Linked DNA regions of Homo sapiens. The protein of the gene in region 1 purifies or fractionates together with the protein of each later gene. This does not show direct contact. Each region holds a gene or a part of one and is shown in the gene's direction. Other genes may lie near its edges.

Region 1 (3,751 bases):
AGGGGTGGGTTATTCACGAATTTTCTAGAAAAGGGGTGGGGAGTTCCCCGGAACTGAGAATTCTTCCGTTTTTAAACCATATAAGGTAAGGTCTGGGCATTGCCATGGCATTCGTAAACTGTCAGAGTGCTGGTGGAAGTGTTGTAGCATGTTCATGTATTATAATTAGTGTATAATGAGCAGTGAGGGCACTAGAGGTCACTTTGGTCACCATCCTGGTTTTAGCTGGCTTGGGCCTGTTTCTTTAGGGCAGTTTTGGCCGTTTTTTTAGGGCATCCTGTTCTGACCAGATCCTGTTTTGCTCAGCAGGTGGTGATCAGTGCTTGGAAAGTCCTGCTGATCTCCTACCTCAACTATAACTGTGCAAATACTTTTCAGGGGGATAATGGAAATGTTCTTAAATTATAGTGATGGTTGCAAATGGTTTTAAAATTACTGAAAATGATTGAATGGTACACTTCAAATGAGTGAATTTTATGGCATGTAAAGAAATGTTTTTTAAAAACACAGCTAAAAAATTAGGAGACAAAGAAGTATTAAGACTTTGTAATTTGGGGAAACACTTGTGATAAATGACAGCGACTATGTGGTTTTGTGGAATGTATTTCCTTGTATGTACCGTGACAGAAAAGAGGGCAGGTGCCAACTGCACTGGGCTTGGGGAAGATTCATTCATTTAAGAAATTTTTTTTTTTCTGAGCATTATTCATACACAAGAGGTTCACGGTTAAAACAAAAATTTACAAAAAGCAACCCTTTCTTCACCTGGGAGCTTATAGCGCAGTGAGGAGACACAGATACATCCATAGCTCGTGAGGTGACCGGGGAAGGACAGGAAGAGCGGGGAGGTGATCAGGGGAGGCCTCGCTGTGAAAACCACGCGCCCTGTCGACCCCGAGGAGACGCGGCCCACGCTGGGAGGGAGCAGCCAGGACAAAAGCCGGTCGTCGTGGGGTCCCGCCTGGTGAGTGGGGGTGAGGACAGCGAAGTGTGGGCTGCCCTGGGCTTCCAGGGAAAGGAGCCAGATGGAGAGGGGAGATGTGGGGGACCGATCGCGTGCAACAGCCTAGGCCACTGCCGGCCGCTGGCTGTGGCAATGAGCGCGGAGCCTTTGGAAGATCCAGGGGACAGGCTTCCACAGCATCCACGTGGCTGCGGCGTCGCCGACAAGGCCCAGGCGGGGGCAAGATGGTACGAAGCGACCATTTAAGTGATTGTTACAATCATCCCCGCAAAGATAACAGGGGGCTTGACCCCATGTAGAAGTGTGCGAAGCGGCTGGTTTCTGTCAGCGTTTGACCTTAACGGGAGTAACGAATCGACTATGGGTGTGAGGAAGACTGGTCAGAGCTGATCGCGCCTCGGAATGGAGTGGTGGCTGGGATGCGGAAAGGCCCCGAGTGGAGCAATCCTGGGTGAGGCGGAAACGGGGGCTGACTTTCCAGCCGTCCGCGTGCTACTGAGGCGGCGGCCACCCTGGCACCTTCCCCTAGCTCCGCTAGTCCGCGCGTACAGCCCTGGGATGTGGCGGGCTGGGAGACCCACGCTCCCGGCGTGCTCTGCGGCCCGGCCCGCGCACCCGGGGGGCGTGGCCTGCGCGCGCGTGCGTCGTAGCCGAACGCTGTGGCGGGGCAGGCGAGGCGGTCGCTTCGAGCGCGCTAGTCAGCTCCCTGAAGGGAGTGACGGCGGTTGGGTGCCCGCGGCCACTTTTGCCTTCCCGGGTAAGTGCGGCGGTGGCGGTTGGCGCCGCCGGCTGACGGGCGGCTTCCTGGGAGACGGGGAGAGCACCCGGCAGGCCCGCCTGAGACGTTTGAGGCTCGCGGGCGTCACTCCTCAGGGGCGTCTGGTCCGAGCCGGGAGGCGTTCCGCTAAGTTCGGTGCCCGCGGGCACCAGCCGGTGGGGGCTTCGTCCGCTTTGCCGGGTAGGAGGGCGGAATGTGGGGTTGGTACGGGCGGGGAGAGCCGGACGGGGCCAACCTGGACCACGTCAGCCAGTCCCGGGTGACTGGCTCGAAGTAGCCTCGGAGTTGAGAGGGGTCGACCGGGGCAGCCCGCGGCGCAGCCCCGGCAGCGCGCATTTGCGGAGAGAACGGATCCCGTGCCCCGAGCGCCGCCGAGCCCCGCACGCCCGTGAGACCCGCTTTGAATTTTCTCTCCATGTTTGCTGGGGTTGTTGACCCGACCCCCCGTAAGACTCGGACTCAACGTTTTTGTTTGCCCCACGACAGCCAGCTTAATGCTGTGGACGTAACAGGGCACGAACGTTTGTAACTGAAAGTTGAAGGGGCTGTGGCGTCTCCGTCCCGTGGCGTGGGAGGTGATCGCCCAGCCCTTGTGAGTAGTTGTCGTCCTAGAACTCCGCCGACCGCCTAGCCGGTGGAGCCGGCGCTCCGGACGCCACTAGAGCTGGCGTTTCGTGGGCGCAGCACCTCTAGCCGGTCATCTTCACCATCGCCATTGAGGGCACTGAGGCCGGGCCAGGCTTCAAACCCTGCCCTCTCTGAACCTGAAGCCAGAGATGAAAACCCAGACGACAGTGGCCTGGCACGGTGGCTCACGCCTGACCCCAGCACCATGGGAGGCCGAGGCGGGTGGATCACCTGAGGTCAGGAGTTCAAAACCAGCCTGGCCAACATGGTGAAACCCCGTCTCTACTAAAATTAGCTGGGCGCGGTGGCGGACGCCTGTAATCTCAGCTACTCGGGAGGCTGAGGCTGGAGAATCTCTTGAACCCGGGAGGCAGAGGCTGCAGTGAGCCGAGATCGCGCCGCTGCACTCCTGCCTGGGGGACAGAGCAAGACTCTGTCTCAAAAAAACAAACCCAGATGACCTAGAGCAGGTTGCTTGGGGATTGCATTATGGGGCATTTTCCGTGTTTCTGAAGAAAACCAGCATGTGTGCAGCTGCCGTGAAGAACACACTGTGCATCGTGAAGTCTGAAAAGAAGTAAAGCAGACCGGGAGAGGTGGCAAACGCCTTGGGATCCCAACGGTTTGGGAGGCCAAGGCAGGGGGTATCGCTTGAGCCCGGGAGTTCAAGACCAGCCTGCGAAACATAGGGAGACCCTCGTCTCTACAAAAACATTTAAAAATAATAAGCGGGCGTGGTGGTGAGCGTCTGTAGTCCCACCTACTCAAGAGGCTGAGGCGAGAGGATCGCTTGAGCTCAGGAGTTCGAGGATTCAGTGAGCTTATGATTGCGCCACTCAATTTTCCGGCCTGTCCGCCGGAGCGAGAACCTGTCTCAAAAAAAAAAAAAATAGGGAAGCATTCTAAATTAAGATAGTGGTTGTTTACATGCATCTAAATTTACTCCTTCATGAAGTTTCACTAAACTTACATTAAGGCTATTTAAAAACAAACATGAACCTCCAGCAATGGGAGAATAGGAAAGGAAACGCTGGCAATCAAATAGCGGGCTCCAAAACATGTATGGCTTAGCAAACCCTGTATTAACCACAGAATCTTCAAACTGCACGGAAACTGGCAGCACTGGACAGCGGTGGTACTGGGAATGAAGGTGGTGTGGTGCAGAAGGTGGGTGTAAGGAGCTTAAAGAAAGATGATTTAGGTGAAATCTGAGAAGCAATTGGATATCCAGATCCCCTTCCCCATTTCACCTGTTGGGTGACTGCCTTTCCCCTTGTTAGAAGACTGGATGGAGGCTTATTCTCTTGAGAAAGTAAAACAGAGGATCTTTGAACTGAGAAACCCAGGCATAATTGTGGGGCTGCATGTATGAAGATAGGGAC
Region 2 (3,651 bases), on another chromosome or scaffold:
TATTTACTCGCATGATCATGTGACTGATTGGGAGCTGTGGCTGGCTGCCGCTGCAGAGGATTGTTGAGAGAGTATCTTATTACATATTGCGAGCCTGGGAAAAGATCAAAATCCAGAATTTGAAGTATGGTTTGTATTGAATGCATGTCGCTTTCACACCATTGTAAAGTCGAAAAACTATCTCAAACCATCCTAAATTGGGGACCATCTGTATGTCGCTTAAAATGTTTCTTAGCTGTCTGTAAGTTCCCTTGCAGATGCAGCAGTCTTTTAAGCACAGCATATGGTTTTTGCAATTATAAAAATAGCATATGCTCCTTATAATACATTTTTAAAATACAGCAAAAGTTAAAGAAGATTAACCAAGTATCCCATATTTTGGTGCATAGCTGAACTTTCTGTAAATATATACCTTTATAAATATAGTTTGTTTAAATTGAATCATACTATGCATACTATTTTATGCCTTGATTTTTTTTCCATTGGTAATATATCTTCTCATGTCAGTATATAGTAAGCTATGTGATTTAAAAGTTGCATAGTATTTCATTGAATAAACATGCTATAATTTATTAAACTAAAAATATTGGTGGACATTTAGGTTATTTGCAACTTTTTGCTGTTGTAAAGAATACTTCAGGCCAGGTGTGGTGGCTCACGCCTGTAATCTCAGCACCTTGGGAGGCCAAAGCAGGTGGATCACTTAAGGCCAGGAGTTCGAAACCAGCCTGGCCAATGTGGTGAAACCCTGTCTCTACTAAAAATACAAAAATTAGCCGGGTGTGGTGACATGTGCCTGTAGCCCCAGCTACTCAGGAGGCTGAAGCACAAGAATTGTTTGAACCCAGGAGGCGAAGTTTGCAGTGAGCCCAGATCGCGCCACTGCACTCCAGCCTGGCCGAAAGAGTGAGACTCTATCTCAGAACAAAAACAAAAACAAAAACGAAACAAAACAAAAAACCACTTCAGTGAATATATTTCAGAGTATTTTAAAAAATAATTTCTAAAAATGGTTTTACTGAATCGAAAGCCTTTCCTTTTTTTTTTTTTTTGAAGACTTTTGATACTTATTACTAAATTTGTGTCCCCCAGGAGTCTTTTAAAATATTACCTGAATTTTTCTTTTGAAAATGGGTACAAAAGTGACCCATGTTTAAAAATTAAAGTGTCTGTGTGACTAACAAGCATATAAAAAATGCTTAACATCACTAATCATTAGAGAAATGAAAATCAAAACCACAATGAGATACCATCTCATGTCAGTCAGAATAGCTGTTACTAAAAAGTCAAAAAATAGCAGATGTTGGCAAGGTTTCAGAGAAATGGGACGCTTAAACACTGCTGGTGGGAATGTAAGTTAGTTCAGCCATTATGGAAGGCAGTGTGGCGATTTCTCAAAGAACTTAACACAGAAATACCATTCAACCCAACAGTCCCATTATTGGATATATGCCCAAAGGAATATAAATCATTCTACCATAAAGACACGTGCACACATATTCATCGCAGCACTATATGCAACAGCAAAGTCATGGAGTCAACCTCAATGCCCATCCGTGGTAGACTGGATAAAGAAAATCTGGTACATATTACACCATGGAATACGGTGTAGCCATAAAAAGGAATGAGATAATGTCCTTTGTAGCAACATGAATGGAACTGGAGGCCATAATCCTAAGTGAACTAACATGGGAATAGAAAACCAAATGTTCTCACTTCTAAGTGGGAGCTAAGCATTGATTACACACGGACACAAAGAAGGGAACAACAGACACTGGGGCTTACTTGATGATGGAGGGTGGGAGGAGAGAGAGGATCGAAAAAGTATCTATCAGGTACTATTCTTTTTACCTTGGTGATGAAACAACCTGTACACCAAGCCCCTGTGACACACAATTTACCTATATAACAACCATGCACATGTACCCCGAACCTAAAATAAAACTTAAAAAAAATTAAAGTGTCTGGTACGTAACTCCCCAGTAAATTTATTTTAAATCAGCTCTTTAGCTGATTTATGATTGTGTGTTAATTGTATCTAGCATTTGCATGGTTGTTAAGATGGATTGGAATCTGTTTGCTATGAAGTACAGTCAAAGGGAAATATTTATTTTTTCCCTTTCTTTTCTTTGACAAAGGAAAAACTGTCAGCCATAAAAGTCTTTTTTTTTTAAATAACTTATAGGTCAAAGAATTAGAAGAGCAACTAGAAAATGAAACACTCCACAAAGAAATACACAACCTCAAACAGCAACTGGAGCTTCTAGAGGAAGATAAAAAGGAATTGGAATTGAAATATCAGAATTCTGAAGAGAAAGCCAGAAATTTAAAGCACTCTGGTAAAAGCATTGAGTAGGCTACTATGTCTTACTATTAATCTTTGAATTACTCATGCCTAGTACAAAACCTGGCATATAGTTAGTCTAGAACATTTACTGAATGCTGTGGAAAAATACCAAGATTTGTTTTGAAATTCCTTAATTTCTAACCATTGCAATTCAGTAGAATAGCTGCTGTATTAAATAATTCAAAAATATTTAGACTAATTTTTTGGACTTAGAGCCCTTGTGAACATCATATACAGAATTTAGACACAGAGATACCGTTAGCCTAGGAAGACCAACTTTTCAGCATTTTTCAGAGCTTCAGAGATGAATGTTCATTATGTACTTTATTTTGTTCACTTAGAGTGCATTTTTAGAAAGAATTAAACTTTTTAAAAATACTGTCTTCATCTTTGGTGTTCATACTACCTTCATCTTTGGTGTCTAATAATACACATGAAATAATACTTTCTATATTGTACCTAACAATGAACTGGGCAACAATATATCTATTAAATGGAAAATCTTTAGAAACACCAGGGGATACTTAAATCAAAAGATTTATTCATTCAGTTCTAGAAGGCTTAACGGGAATGTGCGAGTTAGATTACTATACGGGCATATGTGTAAGTCTCTGTTGGAAGGTCGGTAATTTAAGAAGTCAGGTACATTCCCTTTATAATAGCTTCAATATTCACTTCAGATATTTTTGGTTAATTTTATACTAGAATTTTGAAACCTATGCAGAAGAACCATGTAGGCCTTTTTTCCTTCTAAAAGCATTCAGTGCTTTCTAATCCACAATGAAAATTGATTATAATTTATTTTTTAATTGATCCAAAATTAAGAAGTATTTCATTCTTTTTAGTGAATATCAGAGTAGCCTGTAGCCAAAGCCATCTTTATTATGAATAGAGGAGGCAGACACTGGAAATATATAAGGTTCAAATCTGAATGCCTTCTATTAATACTTATTATCTGCTGTGTGTGTACCCAGCCCTATCCTAGGAAACAATAAGAAATACAGAAGAAAAGAAACCATGCTTTTTGTCTTCAGAGAACTCAGATTCCCCTTGGAGGGATAGGTGCATGCACATAAAAAGACTAGAGGATTCTCAGTTTTGGAGAGCATAGCCCACACTGCCTATTTAAGTGTTGAGGGTAAATACAAATGGACAGATCCCTGAGGGTACACTCAGTCGGGGAAAGTGGAATGGCTGTGGATGGGGAGAGCTACCTCTGAGTGCCAACAGTATGCAGCACCTTTTACCCATTATCTCATAGGTATTAGCACCTGTGATATCAACTTAAGTTCAGTTCTTTGAAG

The links. The genes of interacting proteins can lie anywhere in the genome.
Region 2: the proteins of TEX30 (region 1) and SHTN1 purify together in Homo sapiens (affinity purification with mass spectrometry; one large-scale study listed by BioGRID and IntAct). This does not show direct contact.

The regions. Positions count from the first base shown.
Region 1 is NC_000013.11:102,771,652-102,775,402, reverse strand, and holds the start of TEX30 (testis-expressed protein 30), read left to right. Parts: upstream 1-1,616; 5' UTR 1,617-1,721; exon of another isoform or gene 1,722-3,751.
Region 2 is NC_000010.11:116,928,537-116,932,187, reverse strand, and holds part of SHTN1 (shootin-1), read left to right. Parts: intron 1-2,185; coding exon 2,186-2,339; intron 2,340-3,651. UniProt on the Homo sapiens protein: Involved in the generation of internal asymmetric signals required for neuronal polarization and neurite outgrowth.